4 separate regions of the Homo sapiens genome follow, and regions 2, 3 and 4 are each linked to region 1. A link means that fine-mapping ties the variant in region 1 to the plasma level of a protein whose gene starts in the linked region. Region 1 holds a variant in brackets. A gene starts in each other region. All regions are shown on their forward strands. Distances are from middle to middle.

What was found. PIP is the posterior inclusion probability: the model's chance that the variant is causal. Protein levels are from antibody-based Olink assays in UK Biobank. Linkage for the fine-mapping came from a reference panel and not from the study's own genotypes, which makes the PIPs less certain.
Region 2: CD79B starts here. The variant in region 1 is fine-mapped to the plasma level of the CD79B protein (UK Biobank, PIP 0.93).
Region 3: HSD11B1 starts here. The variant in region 1 is fine-mapped to the plasma level of the HSD11B1 protein (UK Biobank, PIP above 0.99).
Region 4: CD274 starts here. The variant in region 1 is fine-mapped to the plasma level of the CD274 protein (UK Biobank, PIP above 0.99).

Annotation. Positions count from the first base shown.
Region 1 is chr1:184,699,784-184,707,954 of GRCh38, forward strand. It overlaps EDEM3 (ER degradation enhancing alpha-mannosidase like protein 3), which reads right to left. Exons shown (of 20, transcript NM_025191.4): 18 at 6,860-7,025; 19 at 3,028-3,213. Among named protein-coding and RNA genes, the nearest start is that of EDEM3, 51 kb to the right of the region's middle. The variant G/A (reference allele first, on the strand shown) is at 3,181.
Region 2 is chr17:63,929,447-63,932,484 of GRCh38, forward strand. CD79B (CD79b molecule) reads right to left here and starts at 2,885. Exons shown (of 6, transcript NM_000626.4): 1 at 2,749-2,885; 2 at 1,889-1,939; 3 at 628-939; 4 at 324-442; 5 at 1-29. The coding sequence starts at 2,815. RefSeq lists a silencer at 1,735-1,804 and enhancers at 2,502-2,891, 2,865-3,038.
Region 3 is chr1:209,701,322-209,709,492 of GRCh38, forward strand. It overlaps HSD11B1 (hydroxysteroid 11-beta dehydrogenase 1), which reads left to right and starts at 3,525. Exons shown (of 6, transcript NM_005525.4): 1 at 3,525-3,709; 2 at 4,490-4,620; 3 at 5,388-5,499; 4 at 5,622-5,807. The coding sequence starts at 3,622. All of the region lies in intron 1 of HSD11B1-AS1 (HSD11B1 antisense RNA 1), which reads right to left.
Region 4 is chr9:5,447,280-5,455,450 of GRCh38, forward strand. It overlaps CD274 (CD274 molecule), which reads left to right and starts at 3,263. Exons shown (of 7, transcript NM_014143.4): 1 at 3,263-3,317. RefSeq lists enhancers at 3,040-3,089, 3,380-3,539.

The sequences.
Region 1 (8,171 bases):
TAGAGCCCTTAAGGCACTATAGGCTTACACTCTAAGCTGCAAGCATGACAATGAATTGGAACTTAAAAATGCTGATGTTTTTTTCCCTGTGACAAATACTATTGAAAAAAGGAAATTTACTCTTAATTGTAAACTGCTTCAATTTGGACCTAAAGGTAACAAAACATTGCCTTTTGTTTGTGGGCACACGGTTGGAATAATTAAGTACCTTTACAAACTGAAATTTTGGAAAAATGAAACACTGAGAGATATGATATTGAAAATTCTGTTCAACAATAGACTGTGGATAGCTTAACTTTCAGAAGTGTCACAGGTTTGACCTAAGGAAGCAACATCACTTGATAAAATGCTAATGCTTTTTGGCTTCTAAATGTGTATTAAGATGACCAGAAAATTTCTGCTAGCAGAACAGTTTCAGATACATCTATACTAATGGCATGGACTTATCAGAAGAAGAAGACAGGAGTGAAGGCTTTTTAAGGGCTTCTATTTTCTGTATTAAATATGAAAAGGACTTCTTAATCAGCATTGTGTGACTTCATATGGAAAAATACGTATTTGTGGAATGACATTTCTAGAAAAGGCAATCTGGAGAACATTTTATTGTTCAGATTTTAAGGATGTTGTTACTTAGTGTACTTATATAATCTGTTAACTAGTACCTGTAATGGTACAATATGGCCTGATACATAGCTGGGAGACAAAAAAGGGGTGCTTTCTGAATCTTGTTCAATATTTCTCAAAGTGTAGCTGAGGAAGCAGCTACAACACAATCACCCGGGATGTTTGTTTGAAGTTTCAGATTCTGATTCCCAATCATAAAGTCTGAATCAGAAAGTCTGATTGAATATTTGGAGCAGGACTCAGAAGCCAACACTTCTAACAAGTGTATCTGTTGATTCTGATGCAGGGGAGAAACACTGATGTATGTAGTAATGGTATAGGACAAATGATAACCGCTACAGACTGTGTAGCTTCTTAGGATATCCTAAGTGAATACATTTGTTGATTTCATAACACTATTACCATTGATTTCTGTTACATTAATAAATATTAACAATTAGACTGTATCTTGTTGCTAATTAATATAGCTGTACAGTTCTATAAAGAGCTATTACACAAAAAGGGGGCTTTTCAATACTTTTATCAAAAGATCACTCTATAACAATCACAGTTCAATAAATTTATAGACTAAAGTTTTCAAAAAATATCTTTTAAATAATGCCCTTTTAATGCAAGGTCCTTAAGGGGATACTGTTCACCAAGAATTCTTATTTTCTGGTAGAATTAATCATGTCTCATAACCTTTCTCTGGTACAGGAAGCACATGCTGTACCATAATCCTGTAGTCCTAACCCATGTACCATACACACACATGAGCTTTTAAAACAAGTCAATACTTTAAATATTTTACATTGTGTTCAAATAAAATGTGATCAAAGTAATAAATACTAAAACAACAATGCCTTTGTTAGAGTGACTCTTGTATGGACATAGACATAGAATTCATCTATTGTATGGGATGTATAATTATTAGAATTTAAAATTATTATGTGACTGCTGACTAGACATGAAAATAATCTAATTACGTTACACAAGATATTATCATGGTATCCACTGAAACAAAATTATATATGTACTTGAGTGTGTGTACACACACCCAAATACATATATACGTATATAATTTAAGGCTTGTTAATGCAAGATACTTACTACTATTAATAATGTAGCTTGGAATCATTTTACCTTTTAATATTGCTGCTGAAATTCCAGTGGTAGCACAAAATAGGGGGAAAAAAAGCAAATGCATTAAAGAGTTACAAGAAATAATAATTTGCCTATGTTAGATGTGCCTAAATGCATATATGTAGGCAAGAAGATCTGAGTTTAGAAAAGGGCCCAGGAAAAAAAAATCAGGTATACAGAGGATTTAAGACTAGAAAACCTTTGTATTCTGTTCTGTTTCCATCTATACATTGTTATATACAAACAACCTACTTGCTCACTCCATTGCTCATAAATAATTGACATTTCAAAGAATCTCAAAGAAGAATAAAGCAATACAAGAAGACAAAATTAGGCTAGCATGATTATGCTAGCATGATTATCACCGAACATTTTTTTTTAAATGTCCCACTTGGAAGTCACATTGAATTGAATCAGTTTCCTACATATCTGTCAAACACCCCAGGGGATGTAACAACCCTGTACTATTATGCAACTTCATCTATTTAAGGGTATGGGAGAACTTTAGCTCTCTCTTCAGGTCTCTCCAGCAGACAGGAAAGACTGCTACCACAAGCAAGATCTGAAGGCTCACATTCCCTCATTTCTCCTCTATCCCTGGGTGTGAAACTATGTAAGAATACTAGTAAGGCCTTGCATTTATATTGTAATTTGGGTTTCAAAGACATTTCAAATTACTAACAAACATTTTGGCCTACAGAGGACTATCTACTCTCATAAATTAAGACATGCTATCTTGTTTTTCAGAAACAGCCATTTGTAACTCTTATATCCATGTGATAAACTTAGATCTCATTGGGAAGAAGCTGCTAGATTTCTATTGCCTTCACCAAGACAGCAGTCATTTGATTATAGGTGGCCTGTTGAGACTAACTACTATGATATTGTATACAACATTCTATATATGTCTTCTCATTCCTTATAAAAGACATGTAAGATGTAGTATCAGTGAAATCAAATTGTGAACATTTCCGGATGTTAAAATGGCTTTCCTGAAGCAGTCTCTTGTATTTTTATCACCTGAACAGACTCAGGGCAAAAATTACAAATCACACATAAAAACATATGTCTAAAAACATCCTAACTCAGAAAACAAAGCAAAATAAATGTTTTATTATTCTTATTTCCAAAAGAAAAATATATTTTGAAATCATCTTCTAAAAGTTTTACTTGTTTTCACAGTGAACCCCCCAAAACAATTTTTTGTGACTCATTCTTGTTATCAAACTAGCAAAATTAATATTACGCTGCATAAAAAAACAAATGGTATTTTACTCTTACCTCGATCTTTTGCTTTATCAGAGAGGAGCACTTCTACCTCCTCATATTCCCGGATGGCATCCAGTATGATACTTCCTTCTTTGCTGAATAAGAACAGCATGGGGATCTTGATGTCATCTGTATCCTTTCCATCACCTGCCATCTGGAACAGAG[G/A]GGCAGTATCACTGCTGCTCCCCTCATTGTCATCTAGCCAGAAAATAAATACAGCAAACATCAAAATATCCAGCCATTAAAAAGATCTATCTACTAATTGTTACTGATTTTTTACAATGACAGAATTAATTTTATGCATCAAGAACCATAAAAACCAACATAATTTTTGGACCCATTAATTCTCATAGAAACGTATCCAAAGGAAATAATTCAAAAGTAGCGAAAAGCCCTATGCCCAAATAATTTTACTAGACTATTTATAATTGTAAACAACTGTACACCATTATAAGTAAATTATAATGACCTACTTGATAGGACACACAGAATAATAATACATTTAAAAAGTAGAATACAGAATTCTATGATTATGACTATAAAAATTTCATATGCTTATGGAAAAGCCTAGAAAGGAAAAAATCAATGACTCGGATTACAGTGATAGAACTATGAATGAATTTTATTGTTGAAAATTTCCACTACTGGCATGATTACATTGTTTTACCAAACTAAAAATGGACATTTCTTTTTTATATAATGCACACAAAGAATAGTTATGACTATAGTGCTTCTTCCTCTATAAGCTAAACTAAACAGTATTGCTATTTTGCATTGGTTAAATAATAGTAGTAGAACTATTAATAGTAGTAGTACCAGCAACATGCTGTTTTACTGAAGACGACAATCACGACCACCTCCAAATCGCATGCCAGTCTCCCAGAAGAAACTATCTGTCCTGTCTCAGGGTGCTCACTCTCATAGGACCTGCTAAGTGCAGAATGCATGACCCATCCTCTTGGTAATAATTGATTAGACAAAAGATGGCTACCTGACCCTGAGTCTCTCTGGGGGACCTGGAACTGGCACACAGAAAGACTGTTTCAGTTAGCAGGGGGTAATAGTCCAGTTGAATGACACAGACTTAGGGGCTGAGGCTGCAAACTAGAATGGCCATTTTGGAACTGAGGAACAAAGAGAGAGAAGGCTGGTGAGAAGCTGGAAAATGAAGCAGAATTGCAAAGAGAAGCAGGGAAGAAAAGTTCAGAAGGACCCAGAGGTAGAGATACAGAGAGAAAAGTGAAAAACATTCACTATCATGGATCCTGGTGATTTTTAGTTCCCACTTCTACCTCCTGGTGAATCCTAGTTGTATTTGTACTGTTTAATTCACTAAAAATAATCCATTTCTGTGTAGTGAAAAAACCTCCCTTCTTAAACCAACGTAATTATCTCCTGCAGCCACATGATTTCTAAGATAATTCGTATTTCTAACCCTTGCAACAAAAAACAGCTAATTCCTAATTTATTCATTTATATACAATTAAAACAAAAACAAAATGCTTTGTCAGAAACAAAAAACTCAGGAGAAAGAAGTCAACACAAGAAAGTTTCTCATTAAAAATTAAATTTTTGGCTGGGTGCGGTGGCTCATGGCTGTAATCCCAGCACTTTTGGAGGCCAAGGCAGACCACTTGAGGCCATGAGTTTGAGACCAACTTGGCCAACACAGCGAAACCCCTTCTCTACTAAAAATACAAAAATTAGCCAGGCTTGGTGGCACGTGCCTGTAATCCCAGCTACTCAGGAGGCTGAGGCATAAGACCTACTTAAACCTAGAGGTGGAGGTTGTAGTGAGCCAAGATCATGCCACTGCACTCTAGCCTGGGTGACAAAGCAAGACTCTGTCTCAAAAAAAAAAAAAAAAAAAAAAAAAAAAAAATTTCTGAGAGTAAGGATCATCATCTCTTATTTATTTATCCACAGAACCCAGTATACCATTTTCCAACTAATAGCTACCAAAAAAAACATTTGACGGGCCAGGCTTGGTGGCTCATGACTGTAATCCCAGCACTGTGGGAGGCCAAGGCAGGCAGAACACCTGAGGTCAGGCGTTCAAGACCAGCCTGGCCAACATGGAGAAACCCCATCTCTACTAAAAAGAAAAAAATATATATAAAAATTAGCCAGGCGTGGTGGCAGGCACCTGTAATCCCAGCTACTCGGGAGACTGAGGCAGGGAGAATTGCTTGAACCTGAGAGATGGAGGTTGCAGTGAGCCAAGATCACGCCACTGCATTCCAACCTGGGTGACAGAGCAAGACACCATCTCAAAACAAACAAAACAAAAATTGACAATTATTGCATACTATAGAAGATCATGAGAATTAGACTTCACTGAAAAATATAAAAAACCAAAATACTACACAAAGAAATATTTTTAAACATTAATGCATAAATTCTACACTTTATACTTTACATTTTCATTTTGAAGTCTTGGTAAGAACTGTTCAAAATGATAGTGATGGTTAATATAATAAATTCTGCAATAAAACTAATCTAAGTGTGGGAAATACCCAAGGATAAAGAGCATGATTTAAGTCAGGGGTCGGCAAATCTCTTCTGTAACTGGCTAGATGATGAATAAATATTTCAGGCTTTGTAGTTCTCTCCTGTAAGTACTCAACTCCATCACTGCAGTTCAAAGCAGTCATAGACCATACACAAACAAATTGGCATGACTGTGTCCCAATAAAACTTTTATTTACAAAAATGGGCAATGAGCTGGATTTGGCCTATAGTCTTGTAGTTTGCCAACTGCTGATTTAAGTCATTAAACAGGACTTCTCCTAATGTTTATTAATAAAATTTATGCATCCATTAAATCAACATAATAAGTGTTAATATTCTGTTTTACCTGAACTATTTTTTTTTATTTACCTTAACTATTGGGCGGCAGGGGAGGGGGGAATCCAAAATGGATTTCCCTGTGAGAGAAGCTGTACAAAAGAACTCACAATCAGCATATTGTGAGCCCAGGTCTTACAGTTCTTTCTGAATGTAAACTCCTATTTACTTTAAAACAGAAAAATTTATATTTCCCCTAATAGTCATGGCCTGTTTATCATGATATAAGTGATTGTCTATGAAAGATAAAAAAGCAAAACCCACTAGTTGATACATATAGGTAAGATGATTTAAAGGTGGTAACTTGTCATTTCGGTAGAAAAAGATCCAAGGGGATAAAGATCTGCTAGCAATACTGTAAACCCTGTTATAGTAGCACTTATCCTATGTCTGCTATTATGCCAAGAAATTTTATATATCTTTAAACCTTACAATCACCTAAAATATATTTATTATCACTTCCACTGGAGCTCAAAAATATTCTACTATCAAATAAAAAAAAATTATACTATTTAATCTACAGATTAAAAAACTGAAGCTAGGCCAAGGTTACACTGCAATTTTGTGGTAGAGCCAGGAACTGTACTCTCATGTGTCTGCCTCCAAAGCCTGCATCTTTGTGGAGTAATGGAAATTTTCAATGGCTCCCCACTGGACGTGGCACAGTGTAATTCTTGCCCTTCGGGGGTTATGGATCTCATGGGCACCTTTTCTTATCCATGGTACTGAATTTTTTTACTACTCAGCCCTACCTCACCCTCACACCTAAACCCAAGTATTTTCACTGACATTAATATACAGAAATTCAAATCTAGACTTTTAAAAAAGATGTTAGATATCTAGAAATTAAAAGTCATTGGATTACCTATCCTTGTTGTCTAGGTGAGGTAAAAAAAACTATGACAAACTCTTTGATAAAATTTTAGAAAATAAAAGGGAAAAAATCCTAAAAATTATCTCCCCTTCAGTCAACACAATGACATGGATGATTACTTACCAATAACAATGCCACCAATGGCTCCAGCATTCTGGATGTTGCGTGCCTTTTCTGCAAACATGCACTGTCCTCTTTGTATCAGTGCGATTTTTCCCATCACTGCCTCTGGGTTAGTAAGCTCTGAACAACCATTGGATGGTTTACTGCTTGCAACAAATCCTCTTGTCTGTCAGAAATAAAAGCAACTTAAATACTTTAATCTTCTCAAATGGCAATCAAGTCATTAAACCTCAATATCTAGAGTTTTAAAAGAACTAGAACTCATTTCTTTTCTAATGATAACGTATCTAACATATAGTCACCATAAAATATTGTTTTAAACATTTTGCATATCACAGTACTCAACCAATATTTCTAGTGTGCTTTGCAGTTTATAGAACATTTTTATATAAACTACAAAATCTGTTATTTATAATGACCCTGAGCAAAACAATACAAATAACATTTCCCTTTCACATATGGGGAAATTGAGACTCAGGTTACGTAATTTGCTCACAATGTTAACACGATGTTACTAAGCAGTAAAGTTGGGACCTGCAGGCAGATTCACTACATTTACAATAGCTGGGAACTAATTTGAAATGATCATTGGTAACAAGAAAAGTTTTTGAAAGGGGAAAAAATGGACTTAGTCTATATGAATCTGCAAGCAGTTCTTTTTACCAAAAAAATTAAATCCACCAAGGAACTAATTTTTTTAAACACGTTACTATAAAGATGTTTTAATATCCTTCACTCTACTAAAATGTAAATTCCATAAGGGCATGGATCTTCATTGGTTTTGTAAACTGATACAGCAAGCAGTGCACAGAATATAGTAGGCACTCAATCAACAGTTGAATGAATCAATCAATCTATATAGCTTCTACATAGTTTAAAATATACATGAGAAAAAAGTCTAAATTAGCAGTAATAGAGTGAAAAGAGCATTGGCTTTAGATTGTCACGATACTTGGGCTCTGGTCCCAGCTCTGCAATCAATTAGTTAGATAACTTTGTGAATTGCTTAGTTATGTAAGTCTTTGTTTTCTACGTTATAACTATGTTACAACTATAGAGGATGGACTAGCTAAATGATCTTCAAAGTTTGCCCAGTGGAACCTCAGGGTCCCAGGCTTTCTCCAGTCACTTGAGCCAGAGCTTCTGTGCTTTTAGCTGTTTTCTACATTAAGCTCCTGGTTTAGACTTTTGTTCAAAGAAAGGTTCTAGTGGCTCTTAGAAAGTCTGAAAACCATTTTTAGATCAATTACAGGTATTAAATTAGAGAAGAGACCAAGAAATTGAATAGAACCTGAATAATATTTTAGTTAAA
Region 2 (3,038 bases), not on the chromosome of region 1:
TCTTCCTCCATGCCAGCCTTGCTGTCATCCTGGGGGCGGAGAGGGATGGAGATCAGAGTGTTAGTGTCCCCCAGCCCCATCCCCTGCTGGGCCAGGCTGGGGAGGGCCAGGGAGAGGGGTGAGGGGTCAGGAGTGAGGTGCATTCTGCAAGAACAGCTGAATGAAGGAAGGAAGGAAGGAATGATTGAATTGGTGAGCCAGTGGGGACAGGCTGGACCAAGAAGGCCACAACGAGAGCTGGGGAGATGGAGACCCTGCATATGCCTGGCCTATGCGGTGGCCTCCTCTGCGGTCCCCCAAGGCTTCCCCCGTCCCCTGATCACCTTGTCCAGCAGCAGGAAGATAGGCACGATGATGAAGAGGATGATCAGCAGCGTCTGGATCATGATGATACCATCCTTCAGCGTGTTCCTCTGCTTCAGCTGTGCCAAGGTGCTGAATCCTGCGGGGACAGGGGTGGGGTTGTGAGCCTGGGCCACAGTCCACCTTTTAGGCCTACAAGGGCAGCTCCCTCAGGTCCCAGTGGCTCTCCTGAGTGCTCTAGGGCCATGACCATCACCACAAGAGGCAGGCCGGGCTAGGGTGGGGCGGACAGCTACAGGAGCGTCCCAGCCACCTGGCACACACCCATGACTCGCAGCTCTGTGCCGCAGCCCTGGTAGACCTCCGAGGTGTTGTTGCACTTCTGCTGACAGAAGTAGATGCCATTGTCCTCAAACCGGATGCCTTGGATGGTGAGGGTGGCGAGAGATTCGTTCTGGGACTCTTCCATGCGGCCCTTTTCCAGCTTCAGCTGCTGGGGATTCTCGTCCATCTCCTGCTTCCAGAGCCAGCTCACATTGCCGGAGGCGCTGTTCATGTAGCAGTGCATTTTCACCGTGAAGCCCCGTTTCCTGGCTATGAAACGTGGGCTCTGCCAGATCCGCGAACAAGCACTACCTGTGGGTGCCAAGGCCAGGCTCAGCATTCCGCTTGGCATCTTCCTGAGTGCCAGCCCCAGCAGCAGGCCCCTGCCCTGGCTGGCACAGACTCCCTGGGCTTAGTCCTTGCTTCTCAGGGTGTGGGACAGGCAGGAGGCTGAGGTTGGAGTTGGGAAGCAGAGCCACGTGAGAGGCTGAGCCACATGAGAAGCCACGGCCAAGCTCTCAGACTCCACCTCTTCCCGACTGCCCCACCTCCCCTTCGATTTTCCTTTGGAAGAGCCCTGGGACCTTGCCATTCCTTCCTATGCCCATTACAACAGCCTGACCCAGGCCACACCCCCAGGACCTGGAGGCCCACAGGCCTGGCCCCTCCTTTCACTGGGCTGCCCTGCACAGGCTTGAAATCCTCAGTCTCCCCCGTTCCTCCAGGGATAAAGGCCAAATTCCTAGTCTGTCAACTGAGACCTTCCTCAGTCGACCCCCTCCCTGCATGACTTCCCTCTATCATCCCCCTCTTCCCTCCTGCAGGGACTGGGTCCACTTCTTGTTCCAGAACCCTCTTTCCAGCTTCGACTGCCTTGTTCTTAGTGAGCACTGCCCGGGAATCCCTGAGCCCCTCACATAGTGACCCTGCACTGGAGGGCTCACCCGAGACTCAGCCAGATTCCCAGCTAGACAGGCCCGGGCCTGAGTCCTAGAGGAACCCCCAGGCTCCCTTGCTATGACCCAGAGTTTAGCCCAGCCCTTCAGTGGCCAAGGCTGGAGGGCATGTGTCTGATGAGGATGACAGTGGGCTGGGGGTGGGGCTCAGAGGAGATCCTAAGGAGGCCTGGGGATGGGAATCCTGGATGGGGAGATCAGGCAAGGGTGGGAAGGCGGACCGCCCCCAGGACAGGGACCATAGTCGGACACAGGACATAGTCGCACACAACTTGCCCTCAGAAGCGGCAGGCGAGGCTACTGACCTTTGGGATTCCGGTACCGGTCCTCCGATCTGGCTGCTGGTACTGGCTCAGCTGCTGGGTGGGAGGAAGTGGGCGGGGCCAGTCAGGGCCTCCTCTGGCCTGGGCTGCCCCACCCCTGCATGCCCTCTATGTTCCCGGAGCTACTTCCTCCTTCCATGACAGCAGCTTCAAGACCCCTCGGTCCTCCCTGCCCCCAGTACTTGGGAGACAGATATGGGGTGGGGGTACCGGAAGCCCTGCCCCCAGCCCCCTTTCTGCCTTTGACCCTCATGGTGGCTTTGAGCAGGCATCTGAATGAGACAGGAGGGACAGGGAAATCTCAGTATTTTGAGAGGCCAAGACAGGAGGATCGCTTGGGTCCAGGAGTTTGAGACCAGCCTGGGCAACATAGGGACACCCTGTCTCTCTTTTTTTTTTTTTTTTTAAAGAGAGACAGGAAGAAAGTCACAGCCCGGAGGATCTTTCACCTCCCAGAGGAGGGGACCACATTTGGATCTTGCATCTTCCAGGGTCCGGTTGGGACAGCCTCTCCCCTCCCGACCCCCAGGCACCGCCCTCAGCCTCTCTTCCTCCTGAGCCTAGTTCTTCCACGGTCCTGGTTGCTAACTCTGGTTTGCTCCTCATGCCCAGCTCAGCCTGATGCTCTCCAGGCAGGAGAGGAACTGGGGCCACAGGCTCCTGAGCCCATCACCACGTGCAGCTGACACCCACAGACCCAGGCCCCAGGGCCATGAGAGGGAGACAGGCGGTAAAGAGTGAGAGACAGAGGAGGAGGGTGGAGCAAGCAGGAGGCAGAGCCGCAGGGCCCAGACAGCTGGAGATGAGAGCAAACCCCACAGGCCTCGTCGTGGGTTCTGTACCTGAGAGCAGCAGCAGCAACGCCACCATCCAGTGGCTGGGCACAGGAGACAACGCCAGCCTGGCCATGGTCACCGCTCTGTCCCCGACCCCAAACCCGTGACAACGTCCGAGGCTCCTTGGAGGAAAACGTGTAACTGCACCGGCTGCAGCCTGTCCCCTCCCCGCCTCTTCCTCACCAGGCCCCTTCCTGCCATGCAAATTGGGACCCAGGGGAGGCACCAGCTCTCCGGGGACCCTGGGGGAGGGCAGGCTTTTGTCAGCTGGGCCGCTAAGGTTTGGCGGTCGCCCA
Region 3 (8,171 bases), 25 Mb after region 1:
AGCAAAAGTGGAAACCCCTGATAAACCCATCAGATCTCGTGAGACTTATTCACTATCAAGAGAATAGCACAGGAAAGACCAGCCTCCATGATTCAATTACCTCCCCCTGGGTCCCTCTCACAACATGTGGAAATTGTGGGAGATATAATTCAAGTTGAGATTTGGGTGGGGACACAGCCAGACCCTATCAATTCTCATGTAATGCAAAGATCCTCTCCTGTTTCAACGTTGCAGTGTTATTCTCCCAGGAAAGGCAGAACCTCTGAACACAGTGTTTACCTACTTTTTACTCTGAGGTTTGCCCAACAAGATTTCATTTTCAAATGGGAGCACTTGCTTAACAAATCTACTAAATAGTCATGAAAAGCACTACAGCTGCCACCTTCTAAATGACAGGTGTTTCTTTCATGATCAACGTTTTATGCCAAATGCAAGGAACTTCCCCTCTGGCTGCCCCTCCTCACATTTTTGCCATCTCCTATCAGTCTCCCCAGATCTGGCCCATCCTTCACAGTCCCATTCTTGTTCATTCAGCCCCTATGTTCTTCTCACTCTGTTGCTTGTGCTTGATTCCATTTATTCTGGTGAGAATGATCAAATCAGAGAGAATTCCTGGCTGGGCTCTAATACTCACCTCCAGCAGTGAAAAGCCCATTCTGTGCAGGTAGGCTCCAGGTATCTGCTGAAAGCCTGCTCTGGAATGGGAATGGTCAGTGTATTACAAAGGAGGGTGCAAGGAGTGGAGTGAACTGTTCACTGTTTTTCTATGGAACTTTAATTCAATCAGGGAATACTTGACTTGAAACAAATGCTAGCTGAAACAGTTGTATTTCATTTTGTCTTTATTATTTTTTAAAACTTTGTTGACAACCCCAGAAAGAAGATTTGGGGGATGGGATTGATCTGTTCTGACCAGAATGCTGAATCCCAGTGATTTCCCCAGATTAAACCAGGCTCCAGGAAGACAGCAATTTTCTCATTGCTGCAGTATCTCAAAAACACTAAAACAGCAAGTTTATTGAATGCCTATTTTGGAGCAAGGCTAGTGGGAAATGGAAAGAGACAAAGATGAAAAAGACATAATCTATGTCCTCCAGGAGTTTACAAGCTAATGAGAGAACCAGCCATGTAAATATGGACACAAAGTGGATTAGATGTTTATTATATAATATGGTCAAAGTGTGGTCCCCATGGGTCTCTGAGACCCTCTTGAAGGGTTGAAAGGTCAAAACTATTTTCATAATTATACTAAGACATTACCTGACTTTTCCAGAGGCTACAGGATGTATGCTAATGCCACTGCCCTGAATGCTAATGGAATGTATGCTTATGTATTCTTGAGCTTTAGAAAAAAATCCTCAGTCTTAATTTCTAATGCATAAATTGCAATAGCAATATCAATAGGTAAAACCTACACAGGCAAAAGTTCTTTGAGGTCCTTGGAAATTATTAAGAGTATACAAGGGTCCTGAGACCAAAAATTTGAGAACTGGTAAGATTTAATGCATCAACTACCATTACACAGTGTCCTTGTTTCTCATCAATGCATTTTATATAGCAATTATTTTATCTAATCCCATGAAACTCACTTTATTGGATGCTTTTGCCATATCCTTATTTTCTAGCATCGTAGCTATTAGGTCATCTAATTATTAATCTGTTTGTGTCTTTGGGTTTAAATGTGTCTTTTGAGGCCACACAATGTTGGACTTCATTTTTTAATGGAGCCAACAATCAGCAATTGTTAATGCATTTGCTTTGTGTTCTATTACTCTGCAGTTTATCTTACTCATTGTTATTTTTGCTTTCTTTAAATTTATGTTTTCTTAATGGACTTTAAAATTCTTTATTTATTTTTTATGTCAGACAATAAACATCCCTAGTCTGCCCATCTTTCTATCATTTCAACATCATCATATTTCCAAATAACTTTTCATTGTTTCCTATAATTTTACTATTAATAGTATAGGATTAAGAAAATAAACCTTATCTGGGTTCTGGCTGGCACTGCCTTCCCTCTAGGGATGAAAATGGAGTGTAGTCTGTAATATATCCTGGTATCATAAATATATTTATAAAATTATACAAATGTAGCTTGCAGTTCTAAAGGCATGTAATCTAATTTTTACTTGAATTTTATCTTTTTTCTCTTTTTGTCCTTCATAGACCTCGAGCTCTGTCTAGCCCTCAACTGTTCTCAAATCTCCATTGTTTTCTACAAGTGACCCTCACAGCTGTGGGCCTTTGTTGACAAATTGTTTCATCTCCTCTGGGTCTTAAATTATTTTCTCTTACTCTAAAGTGAAAATTTGATGAATGTTTCCAGATACTGCACTTGGAATCATAACTTAATTTCCCTTAACCTTGTGTAAATTCTGTCCCCCCACTACTCCCAACTCCTATCCCTCCTCCAAAGCACTGATACTTATTATCACATTTAAATTTTTTCCCCGCTCTACTGATAACTTACAGAATGCAGGACTGCATTGTGATGGGGTAATTTCCATGAGTTGATTGGTTGGTTTTGAGTTGAAAAACTTAACAATGATACATCTTAAATTCTTTCTTTGAGGATTATTCCTTAATGAATTCGTGCTACGGACATACTGAGGTGGTTATTTTTATATTTCCCTGATAATAAATTCTAAATTGCTAAGGGTTTCTTACCACCCTCGTCCTTTTACTGTTACTAGATCTATTTTTAGCTGGTGTGGGCGTCCCCAGCTAGTTTCACTTGCCTAATGCTAGTTCTTTTTTCTTCTACATCAGGTCGCCTCTTCCTAGCATCTTCTCCATGTTTCTTGTTGCTCTACAGCATTTACAAGACCCAGTTTAATAGTTTAGTGCCTTTTTTGTCACTCATTATTTCTTCTTTGTTCTCTGTTAAAATAATAAGTGTATGATCCATTGCACTTGCCTTAGAGTCTTGAACCAGTCTTGGATTTCCCGCCATCTGGGTTCTGGCTGGCTTGCAATTTCTCCTTTGATGTTGTAATACTTTTTCATTGAACTTGAGTGTGGGGCTTATAGAGCTTCTTTGCTTTCATTATTTTTTCCCAAAATGTGCACATTTTTTTTCTTAAGCTTATTTTGCTGTTTTGTGCTGTTATTTTTAATTGCTTCCCACTGGGTGGGGGGGTAGGGGGACTGAGAGTGAGATTTGGCTTGAGTTTGGCTCTCTTTGCTATTACTCACATTTCCCCCCAGAAGCCCTACATGCACTCCTCTCTCTCTGTCTTTGACAAATTACTTTTGAAAGATCATTGATCCCTGGCGTAAATGGTGTTAAGAGTAAGATGGACTCGGGTAGGGATGCTCAGGAATCCAGTCCTGTACAGTCATGAGCTTGGCCATCTGGAAGTCTCCTCTTGCTCAATGAAATGGAGTAAACATTGTCCATTATGAAATCCACCACACAGGCTGCCAGGGACGAATGGGATCCCACCCAAAGCCAATCGCTGCTCTGACAGGGAAATTGGCTAGCACTGCCTGAGACTACTCCAGCCTCCCCCGTCCCTGATGTCACAATTCAGAGGCTGCTGCCTGCTTAGGAGGTTGTAGAAAGCTCTGTAGGTTCTCTCTGTGTGTCCTACAGGAGTCTTCAGGCCAGCTCCCTGTCGGATGGCTTTTATGAAAAAATATCTCCTCCCCATTCTGGGGCTCTTCATGGCCTACTACTACTATTCTGCAAACGAGGAATTCAGACCAGGTAAGTACCCATGCGTCTCATTTTGGAGGAATAGGTTTAAAAAACACAGGGGTGCTTGAGTGTTCCTGAGGACCAAGATGTGTTCTTGATCCTCAAAGTTGGTGAAAATGAGGGAACCCTGAGTTAAGATGGTATTTTTGTGTCCTCCAGCTACAGGCTGTGGACAGGGGGGACTGTGTAGGAAGGGTAATCGTGTAGCCAAAATCTAGCCAAATAGGCCATGCTTTATTTGGCACCCTTAATGGAAAGCAGTTTCAAATCTTCTACAAAAATGAGAGTAATACCCAAATTCACAACTCAGCAGCTAATTGGGCTCTATGAAGAGACTGATAAGTGGGAGGCAAAAAAAAAAAAAAAAAAAACTGGAGATGATGACTACATAGAAGTGAGGGAAAATCCCTGGAATTTCTATGAACACATGTGTTTTGATTCCTTGTTAAATGTACTTTCAATTGAGCAAAATTGAAAGAGTCCAGAAATGTCTGGAACTCCAGCATTTTAGCTGAACCATGACTTTTCTGGCTTCATCCTATGATCTCTTTCCATGGAGGTTTTTAGAAATGACAGTAGGGAGGCTGTCAGCCCAAACCTCCCACTTCAGAGCATGTTTATGAAAGACCTGGCCTGTTCCCACAGTGATTTACGGAGTTTGTGACAAACTGATCTGGGCTCATAACCTTTAAGTTACAAATTGCGATAAGCATGCCTATATCCAGAGAGGGAGAAGGAATTTTGCTGCCAACTTGGGTATGGTCCTCACTTCCTTTTGGGGTTCCCCAGAGATGCTCCAAGGAAAGAAAGTGATTGTCACAGGGGCCAGCAAAGGGATCGGAAGAGAGATGGCTTATCATCTGGCGAAGATGGGAGCCCATGTGGTGGTGACAGCGAGGTCAAAAGAAACTCTACAGAAGGTGAGGGTTCTATGCTCGCAGATATGTGTACCGTCACATGCTCAGATGTGTTCTTATATATGCTCACATATACACAGAAGCTAGCATATCGCAGATCTATATACAGAGGCACATGCACACACACAGACACTTAATTTTGCACTCTCATATATAGATTCAAACACCAAAAAACCCACAGGAATATAAAAGTATGCATTTAAGCATTCATTCATGTGTGTGTGTGTAATATATTCTGCAACAGAGTCCTTGAGTTATATATGCTCACAGACATGCCTAGTCACACACATTTACACATGGAACTACAGATACATACGGATGTTTTCAAAAACTGAAATCCCAGTACCTGCTTATGAATACATATCCTCATACCCATGCAGACTCCCAGACACATGCCCTCTCATGGACTCACAAACCCAAGGATGTACAAACATTCACAAACCTAGAGCTACCCACATAGTAACCAGCATCTACACTCATAATGCCCTCAGAAATGCCTATTCACAGAAGCCATGAGCATAAATCATGAACTTAAACCCCAGCACTGGGATGATTTATCCATTTGAACCCCACCAAGTTCCAGAAAATATTTCAGACAGAGGACGATGATCATGAGGGTTATATTAGGCAACACACACACAAACATACTTACCATTTCTTACCTAAACAGGGCTGTGAGCAATCTCTCATTTAAGCCCCCCGTTACTTCAGAGACTACCCCCCAAAAATCTGCAGCTAAGACTGATGCCATTTCTGCTGTATCACTGCAGGTGGTATCCCACTGCCTGGAGCTTGGAGCAGCCTCAGCACACTACATTGCTGGCACCATGGAAGACATGACCTTCGCAGAGCAATTTGTTGCCCAAGCAGGAAAGCTCATGGGTGAGGCTGTTTCTCTTACCTCCTCCTCTGAACTTTGCCCTTGGGGTCACCAAGAGCTTTTGGGAGGAGAATGGGAAAGGTATCAACCCCAGATGATTTCTTAATATAGCCATCTCTTGCAGGAGGACTAGACATGCTCATTCTCAACCACATCACCAACACTTCTTTGAATCTTTTTCATGATGATATTCACCATGTGCGCAAAAGCATGGAAGTCAACTTCCTCAGTTACGTGGTCCTGACTGTAGCTGCCTTGCCCATGCTGAAGCAGAGCAATGGAAGCATTGTTGTCGTCTCCTCTCTGGCTGGTAAGTGGGACAGGGACATATGTGGAAGGTAGAAGAAAAAAAAAAATGCCAGGGATGATGCCAGGCTCTGAAGTAGACATAAATTTTTATCAGTTTCCATGCAGAGAAGTAATGAGGGATTGGTCAAGGTAAGTGGGCTACAAAATTCTTTTAAGTAACAGAGAAAAAGCAGTAGCTCTGAGTGCTCATTGGAAGACTGAATTGTTTTCTACAAAGTAAGGTCAAAGGGACTTGAGGGGCTGCTGGAGGTACAGCCTGTCCTGGTCCTAAGGGAGAGACCTAGTTACAATATTAACTTGAAGTTGAAATGTTCATAGTAATATTAAACAAAAGCTGATTAACAGCTTACTCATATGCATGAATGGGCAGATGTACTGATAAGAGACTTGTAGGGGGGTGATTTGTGGACTCAATGAGAGGCACGCATCCTGAGTAAAGGAGACACTGTTACAAACTAGTGACACCATAAAAAATGAAGGATTGGTCAAGGTAGATGGGCTACAAAATTCTTTTAAGTAGCAGAGAAAAAGCAGTAGTTCAGAGTGCCTATTGGAAGCCTGAATTGTTTTCTACAAAGGAAGGTTGAAGGGACTTGAGAGGCTGCTGGAGGTACAGCTTGTCCTGGTCCTAAGTGAGAGACCTAGTCACAATGGATAAAAAGGACTTTGCTTCCTCCATGACCAAAAGGTTGGTGAAGTTATGTAAATGTGAAGGTACAACTGAGAAGTTAACTGTTTTAACAACACACAGGTGTCTGATAAGTGGGCTAAGCTAAAGCTAAATAAAATGAACAACAAGAAAAAAAAAAAAGATGAACAGACCTGCCTATAGTGGGTGTATTCTCTAAAATTTGAACATGTTAACATGAAAAGATCAATTTAAACAACCAGCTGGGTAGGGAGGAAATGTGTCCAGAGAAATGGTCATGAAAAGATATCTGTGGGATCAAGAGAGGTCCCTGGTGTTCTGGATGGTGGTAGCATCAGAAGCCATCACCAGTAAAAAACCAGTGAGTTCCCAGCTTGGGACATTTCTAGGCCCATTTTTATCATAGATCCAGGAGACAAGTTCCACACATCTTTGTTGATTAGTCAGTTAGAAGGATGTGGCTGGAAAGTGCAAACACCAGGATCAAAATCCGCCATCTAAATGTTGTTCCTGGCAAAATAAAAACAAATAACCTAGAGGACTCTGTAAACTGTTAAGCACTTCACAAACATTCTTATTGAAACTAATAGCACCATCTGTATCGTAAAGAGTTCTCCTTTCTGGCCCAGGGACGGCCTGCATAGTGATTGGATAAAGGGGCAGTGTGTCTGTGCTACCCGCCAAACAGTGTGATTGATATGCATCCCGGTGCTTCCCAGACAACACACACTCCCCACCCCTCCCCAGACACAGACTCTCTCTGGGCTGGAAGAAAGGGAGAGCTTCCAGATGCATACTGAGTGGGAGGGTGCTGGGCACATCCCCAATCCATCCCAGGGCATTGGACAAAATCCTCACATCAGTCATGATGTAGGTGGCTTTAATGATTTCAGCTGATTAAATAATACATTCACTCTAGGCAAAGGATGTATTTCACCTTTGACGAATGTAACTTTCTAGAATGTACCCATGATCTAAATGTGCTCAGAAGGACTAAGAATTACTGTTGAGCCCAAGGACGTGATGAAATTCTGATAATCTCTGTTTCCCCATATCTCCTACACTTATTGAATGACACTTGGTAATTTCCATGAACTCTGGGAGGTAGGAAATCTAGCTGGATGAGTATCTTTGGTGTTTATTGCTTGTGTAGCCAAAAGATTCCAGCTTTTTTGCCTTGAAACCTGTCTATGAACTTGCAAAGTACAGACACATTGCTGTCTTGCCGCAACTGAAGAATATTCTCTGCTTTATGATGTATTCTTTTAATCAGTCAGTAAACATGTTCATTAATCCTTCCTCTTTAAAATCTAAACTCTATAAATATGGGATGCTAAACATCAAGTTGATCTTAAGGTCAGCCAAACAGTACTGGGATGGAGTTTTAATCATTTCTTCTAGGGAATACCTTAAGTTGTTTATTGAGTTTCAGTGATAAAGAATTGTTTTTTCTCCACAATGCATTTCTGGGTATTGCATTACATGGGAATACTATACTTCTAATATGTTCCTTAAAGGCTTGGTTACCTCTGTAGCATTAACAGAGACAATACTGCTGCTTCTGGGAACCTCCTTGTAGTCCACATCTATCCACTATTCACCACCTTTTCTTGGCACCTATTGAGCAAGTTTCTTGTATGTGTAACATCCCGTTACATTGATTAGCCTCCTCTCCTTCCACCACTTGCTAGTTAGGATGTAAGTTCAGCTACTGTA
Region 4 (8,171 bases), not on the chromosome of region 1:
CTTATGTCTGGATTTATGAACTTATTGTGGGTGGGGGAAATTGTTGGAGGTCTCATCTTTGTTTTAAAGTACCTGTGGCATGGGGTCTGCCCTTTGAAGGCAAGAGCTCTTCACCTGCCCAGCTCTTCCCCAGCTTAGGACAGGAAGGAGAGAGACACAGTGTGAGCGAGAGAAGCATCTGATTGTGAGTGTCAGATGAGGACAGCTGCTACTCTCTGGTCACCCATACATGTTAATTACCCCTGTCATTTAAACCATTGTTTTGTGTAACTAGAACAAAGTATTCTTTCCACGAAGTCTGTTTGACACGAGACACATATAGGATGTGAGTCTATGACAAGGGTAGGGGCAACAAATGTGAGGGGTTGGATGGAAACAGAGGAAGAGAAATGAGCATTGCATAGGGCAGTGGTTTAAAACCCTACATGATCAAAAATAGAACCTGGAGACAAATCTTGATATTGTCTTTATACATAATAAAATGCATTTTAAAATATTCGATGCAAACAAAGCAGTTTGTCATGTCTTTTGTTTTGAGTCTCTTTAGTATATGCTGCTTTTGAAGATCAAGAACATTTACTGGAAATTGCTCCTTCACCAGGAATTTGCTCACATCTCTTCAGGTCCACTTATAAGATCTTGAAATCAGTCCTCCTGAGATCAGTACAAACGAGGATCATCTCTCCTGCTTTAGAAGCAAAAGTGGCAAGCAGGGTAGACAGAGGCAGAAGGAAGGATGGTACTGATAAATCAGCCAAATTAGATGGAAGAAAGCGAATTACAGCTGTACTTGCAAAGAACTCTTGGCTCATTTTTTCCCTTAAATATTAAATCACTAGTTTTCAAAACTTCAAATGTGAACATGACTCACCTGAGGACAATGTTAAAATGTTGACCTCCAAGACCCTGCCCCCAAGTTTGGATCCCAGGCAGAACCCTGGAATCTGTATTTTAAACATTAACCCCAAGTCGAGTGTAATGCAAGTAACCATCAGAGACACTCTGAGAAACAGCACATTGGCAATGATGAATTTATATGTCTAAAAATGAATAGAGTAGATGTTACATGAATAGGAAGTGGTGGTATTCAAGATGACCATAGTATCTAGCTCTTCAGCCCTGGCTCCCCACTGCTCTTCTCCCATCTCAGCACTTCTCCATCTATTTCGTCCAAATAAAAAAATTCACACAGAGTTTCAGGACTTAACCCCCCACTCATTAACCATCTGTTTTGCTTTACATATTTTTCTGAGGTAATAAAATTTCTCTTTTTCTAAACACAGCCTGTTTTTCAATCTCCGGGTAGTTGATCAATTGTATGGGAAAATGAATGGCTGAAGGGTAGAAACAGGTGGGAAAGATGAACAAAAACACGAATCCTCACATTACTAATACGCAAATCACTGAGCAGCAAGCTGAGCAAATACCCTCAATTCCCATCAGCAACTTTAGAGAAAGGCAAATTCCGTTTGCCTCATTGATCATTTAGGTAGACCCTGAACACTGCTTTCATAAAACAAAAACAAAATACCCATCCCCAGTTTAAAAAATTATTCATAGATCATCCAGGCCATCTAGGAGGATATGATTTAATCCTGGCTACTTGGTAAATTATTTGCCCAAGTTAACTCAGCTAGTTAGTGGTAGATGGCTCTGAAGCCAGTTGTTTTTTTTTGTTTTGTTTTTTGCAGACCTCAAGAGTCATGATGAACTAGCAGATCATAAAGTTTATGCCCTGGGTCTTGACCATTTTTAGAAAAATAAAACATTAAATGAAAATATCAGAGGGCATTGCAGATAGTAGATCTAAGTATTTTTTCATGAAACTTGTTGTACATGTGTGTGTCATACACAGACTATATATATGCAGTACCTGTAAACTGTATTGCCACATAATGTCTATATTTTCCTAGAGGTCACAGTCACCAAAGTTGGGAAGTCACCCAACTTCGGGAACTTTGGGAAGTCACCCAAACTTACAGTCACCAAAATTGCTCTATTCTACTATGTGACCTCAAAAGTGATTTGAAAGAAGGAACATCTGAGCTGGGCCCAAACCCTATTGCAATTTTATTGGGGCCAAAGAGAACTCCATGCTCCTGCCAAATCAAGGCAGTGTCAGCCTCAATAATTTCCCAGATAAAAATAAAAATCTGTGATACAATCAGAATGTGAAAATTCTTATTTTGGAAGCAAATGTCATAACCAATGCAAGGGCTATCTCAATATTCATTCATTATGCAGTATTTTGAACTGCAGTTGAAATGAATAAGAAGGAAAGGCAAACAACGAAGAGTCCAATTTCTCAATTTAGAAAAAGAGAAAAAAAAGAAAAGGGAGCACACAGGCACGGTGGCTCAAGCCTGTAATATCAGCACTTTGGCGGATCACTTGAGGTCAAGGAGTTCGAGAAAAGAGAGCACCTAGAAGTTCAGCGCGGGATAATACTTAAGTAAATTATGACACCATCGTCTGTCATCTTGGGCCCATTCACTAACCCAAAGCTTTCAAAAGGGCTTTCTTAACCCTCACCTAGAATAGGCTTCCGCAGCCTTAATCCTTAGGGTGGCAGAATATCAGGGACCCTGAGCATTCTTAAAAGATGTAGCTCGGGATGGGAAGTTCTTTTAATGACAAAGCAAATGAAGTTTCATTATGTCGAGGAACTTTGAGGAAGTCACAGAATCCACGATTTAAAAATATATTTCCTATTATACACCCATACACACACACACACACCTACTTTCTAGAATAAAAACCAAAGCCATATGGGTCTGCTGCTGACTTTTTATATGTTGTAGAGTTATATCAAGTTATGTCAAGATGTTCAGTCACCTTGAAGAGGCTTTTATCAGAAAGGGGGACGCCTTTCTGATAAAGGTTAAGGGGTAACCTTAAGCTCTTACCCCTCTGAAGGTAAAATCAAGGTGCGTTCAGATGTTGGCTTGTTGTAAATTTCTTTTTTTATTAATAACATACTAAATGTGGATTTGCTTTAATCTTCGAAACTCTTCCCGGTGAAAATCTCATTTACAAGAAAACTGGACTGACATGTTTCACTTTCTGTTTCATTTCTATACACAGCTTTATTCCTAGGACACCAACACTAGATACCTAAACTGAAAGCTTCCGCCGATTTCACCGAAGGTCAGGAAAGTCCAACGCCCGGCAAACTGGATTTGCTGCCTTGGGCAGAGGTGGGCGGGACCCCGCCTCCGGGCCTGGCGCAACGCTGAGCAGCTGGCGCGTCCCGCGCGGCCCCAGTTCTGCGCAGCTTCCCGAGGCTCCGCACCAGCCGCGCTTCTGTCCGCCTGCAGGTAGGGAGCGTTGTTCCTCCGCGGGTGCCCACGGCCCAGTATCTCTGGCTAGCTCGCTGGGCACTTTAGGACGGAGGGTCTCTACACCCTTTCTTTGGGATGGAGAGAGGAGAAGGGAAAGGGAACGCGATGGTCTAGGGGGCAGTAGAGCCAATTACCTGTTGGGGTTAATAAGAACAGGCAATGCATCTGGCCTTCCTCCAGGCGCGATTCAGTTTTGCTCTAAAAATAATTTATACCTCTAAAAATAAATAAGATAGGTAGTATAGGATAGGTAGTCATTCTTATGCGACTGTGTGTTCAGAATATAGCTCTGATGCTAGGCTGGAGGTCTGGACACGGGTCCAAGTCCACCGCCAGCTGCTTGCTAGTAACATGACTTGTGTAAGTTATCCCAGCTGCAGCATCTAAGTAAGTCTCTTCCTGCGCTAAGCAGGTCCAGGATCCCTGAACGGAATTTATTTGCTCTGTCCATTCTGAGAACCCAAAGGAGTCCTAAAAGAGGAATGGAGGAGCCTAAGAATAAAAATAGTATAATAAAACATTTCTTAGACACATTGACCTTGGCCTATGTCAAAGTTCAGTCTGGGTTTGTCTTATAACACAAGGAGTAAAAGTACCATTGTTCTACCTCTTTTTTTAATACTTGAAAAAAATTTACTGTGGATGCTTTTCTATGAATTAAATAACCTTCTAAAAAATGTTTTCATTGCTGCATTCGATTAGATTGGGTAACTAAATGAAATTAATTCCTCACTGTTGGGTATAAAGGTTATTTACAGTGGTTCTGTCTTAGCCATTCACTGAACTCATTGCATATATATCTCTGGAATATTGCTGATTGTTTCCTTCAAGTAAACTTAGAAGTGTAACTACTTAGTCAAAGAGCCTGAATATTTTAAAGGCCTTTTGAAGAAAACTGAAAATGCTTTCCAGAAAGGATGTATCAGTTGACAATGACAGTCGTCAACAGTATTTAAGGAGAACTATGATACTCTGAAGAAAAACTTAGCCTTTCTCAGTAAAAGTAGGTAGGCAGAGGCCACATGACAGCAGTTAGAGTGTGGTCTTCAAGGAAGTCACAGAAATACTGTGGGGAATTGAAACCCCATGTGGAAAATGTACAAGAGTGTCTCAGTGTGACTGAGAAGGAGGTTGGGCATGGGGTTTCATGGAGTTTAATAAAGTTTGGTCACTTAGTAGAGGTTTAATAAATCAACTGTCTTAATCTTTGATCCTACTTAAGAATTTTTTTTTTGTTTTTGTAGAGATGGGGCTCTTGTTATGTTGCCCAGGCTGTTCTCGAACTCCTAGCCTCAGGCGATCCTCCCTCCTCAGGCTCCAGAAGTCCTGGGATTACTGGCGGGAGCCACCATGCAGGCCTCTTGCTCCTACTTTTGAGAAAGGAAGTTTAACCGGTTTTTTTTGTCTTTTTTTTTTTTTTTTTGAGACAGAGTCTCACTCTGTTGCCCATGCTGGAGTGCAGTGGTGCAATCTCAGCTCACTGCCTCCCGGGTTCAAGTGATTCTCCTGCCTCAGCCTCCCGAGTAGCTGGGACTACAGGCACCTGCCACCACGCCCAGCTAATTTTTGTATTTTTAGTAGAAATGGGGTTTCACCATATTGGCCAGGCTGATCTCGAACTCCTGACCTCAGGTGATCCGCCTGCCTCGGCCTCCCAAAGTGCTGGGATTACAGGCATGAGCCACTGCTCCTGGCTGCTTAACTTTTTCTCTATCTCATCCTCCTACCCATCCTACCCTTGGAAGATAGAGAAGTAGTATTAGTTCCATAGTGTTATACTGGGCTTCCCCCAGGGACAAACCCACTTCCCCAACCTGAATGAGCCATCACTTCTTCCCCAGTTTACATTTCATTGCTCTTTAAATGTCTCCATTCGGATATGGGAATTCACATATGGTCATAATTCTTACCTGAAGAAGATGTCAGTCTTCTTCTCTTAGACCAACTGCCCTGATATGAGGTTTAGAGGTTAAAGAACATGTGTGTATTTACATGATCTTTGTATTCTGCCTTTTCGTCCCTCACTAATGACAGCTGCACCCCAAGGAAATGGAGCTGTGGAAGAGAGGGTTTGATAAGAAATTAAGTAAATATTGGATCTAATCCATCACCCTCCAGGAAGCCTTTATTACTCCTAAAAATTTCAACCAAATTCATTAAAGGACAAGAACTCCACCAGAGTAGGCCATAAACATTGGCAAAATTAGTTGTAATCCATGACTAGATTTAATGTCCCTTTGTTTTATTCCCATATGGTTATAATGCTTTGCTTGGCATTAGGGGTATTTTAAGTTTTCTTCTGCCTAGTAAGTGAATTTGTGTTTATAATACAATAATCATAAAATATCACATTAATATTTTATAACTGTACAGTTATAAAATATTTTATAAGTAATATTTATATTTTATAAGTAATATTTTATAACTGTACAGTTAACTCTGGCCCAAGGAAAAGATAGTCTGATAGATGCTGCAGCCCCATTTTAGCAAATGTGACCTCACAGGCCTGAATGCCATCGCTATTCCACATCTACAGGATAGACGGAAAGGAAAGAAATAAAAAAATAGGTACCTAACACTGGCAAGAGGATGATGACTCATGTTATTTCACTTAACCTTTTTATCTTTTAACATGAAGGACTCATACAGGTTGATAAGAAACCAGTGACATAAACAGACCAAAAAATGATCAGATCTTTCAAATTAGCAAAAAAATAATATTTTTTAAACAATGGGTGAAAATACAGTGTAACAGTACCAATTATCAACATGTGTTGAGAACCAGAAAAATGTTCTTTTTCTTTGATCAGCAACACTATTTGGGAAAATCTATCCTCAGGGCCTAGCCTGGGGCCCTGGCACACAGTAGGCACTCAACGAATATTTGCTGAACACACAAATACTTATGATATTTTAAAAAATTGGCAACAATCTGATACCTAACAATAGAGGGATTAAATATTATGGAACTGTTAAATAAGATGCTTATGAATACCATGCAGTAAGATGGGCAATATTTATGCCATAAGCTTTAATGAAACAAATGGGTATTAAATGTATGATAAGGTTATAAATTACTTTTTAAAAGATTACAGGGAAAAAAATTGAAAGATATACACTGAAATGTTTTTTGCTCACAGTGGTGACAAGGTTTCTCAGCACTGGCACTGTTGACGTTTTAGGCTGTATGTCTTTGCTGTGGGAGGCTGGCCTGTGCACTGCAGGGTGTTTGGCAGCACTCTTGGCCTCTGCCCCTAGATAGCAATAGCAGTCCTCCCTCAACCAGCCCAATTTTGACAACCAAAAATGTTTCCAGGCATCACCAGATGCTCCCTGGGTGAGAGTGATGAAATAGTAGGGGATTTTCCCCTTCTTTTCTTATTTTCTGTAATTCCATTATATTACTTTAATAATAAAGAAAAAAACATAAAAAATAAACGAATGTTATTATTCTACGTCAGTTTGGATGTTTGGACTCCATTTTGGGGTTCTTTCCATTATATCACTTGGTCTGCTAAACATTCTACGGTTTGGTAAGGTGAAGTGATTCATGAAATTTTGGTTTTATTTTTTTCCTGATACTAAAAATAAAACATTCTTTCACTTGGAAATTTGGACACAGAACACCAAAAAAAATCCATAATCTCATCTCTCTTTTTCTGTCTTTTCCTTCCTTTTTTCCCTTTAAAAACAATAAAGAGTGAAACCTACCTGTTCTCCCTCTAATTTAATTCCTAAATATAATCACTGTCAATATCTTGGACATTTCCTGTGTCTAAACACACACACACACTTTTTTTTTTCAGCAAAAGTGGATTTCTGCTACATGTAGTGTTCTGCAACTTACTTTCTATGTGTTTACAAAATCAGTACATGTACATATGCTGAATTCAGTCCTTAATGGTATTATATTTTGTGAATATACCAAAATTTGTTTAACCACTTAGACAATCTAGGATATTCTCAGTTTGCTGTTATGAGCAATGCTCTTCCTTTACATATACAGACATATATATATATATGTGTGTGTGTGTGTTTTTGTTTTAGTAGGATAGATTTCTAGGAGAGGGTGAAAGGTCTTATGACATCCGCATTTACGATTGTAATAGGAAGTATCAAAGTGCCCCCTAAAGAAAAAAATCCTCCCATTAGTGGGTAAGAAAGCCTATTTGTTCATATCTTCACAAACACTAAATATTAGAAATATTTACAATTGTGGTCAAGCTCATAAGTGAAAATGGTATTTCATATCTTATATTTTTTATTGTGAGATTGAACATCTTTCATATGTTTACATGTCACCTGTATTTCTTATTCTCTGAACTATATGTTATGACCTTTCACTTTTTTTCCTCATGGGTTATGTGTAGTTTGTATAGTTGTCTTATTGATTGTTAGGAGCTATTTATATATTAGGAACATTAATCTCCTGTCTTATATATACGTGGCATCGATTAGTTGATCATTTGTGAGTTCATGTCTGTATACAAAGATTGGAGAGGCACTAAGAGGGAAAACTTACCTCTTTCTTATCAAAGTTTGTAAATATATGTATAACAGAAGAGGGAGAAAATATTAATAAATGCACAGATTGGCTGAAATAGAGTATAAATCTTTTACTCCCCTACTTCAACATAAACTGCAAAAGGAGAGTGACTTTTCTTTCACTCTGACTTCCGTATTCCTCATGCTTAAAATAGTGCCTAGCACAGAAGAGGTGCTCAATCAGTGTTTGCTAAACGAAATAATTAGTCACATTTCAAGCAGGATGACTAAATGAAGAATAGAATCTAGGCAGATACTCTGGAAGAGTGGCTGTGAGTCATTCAT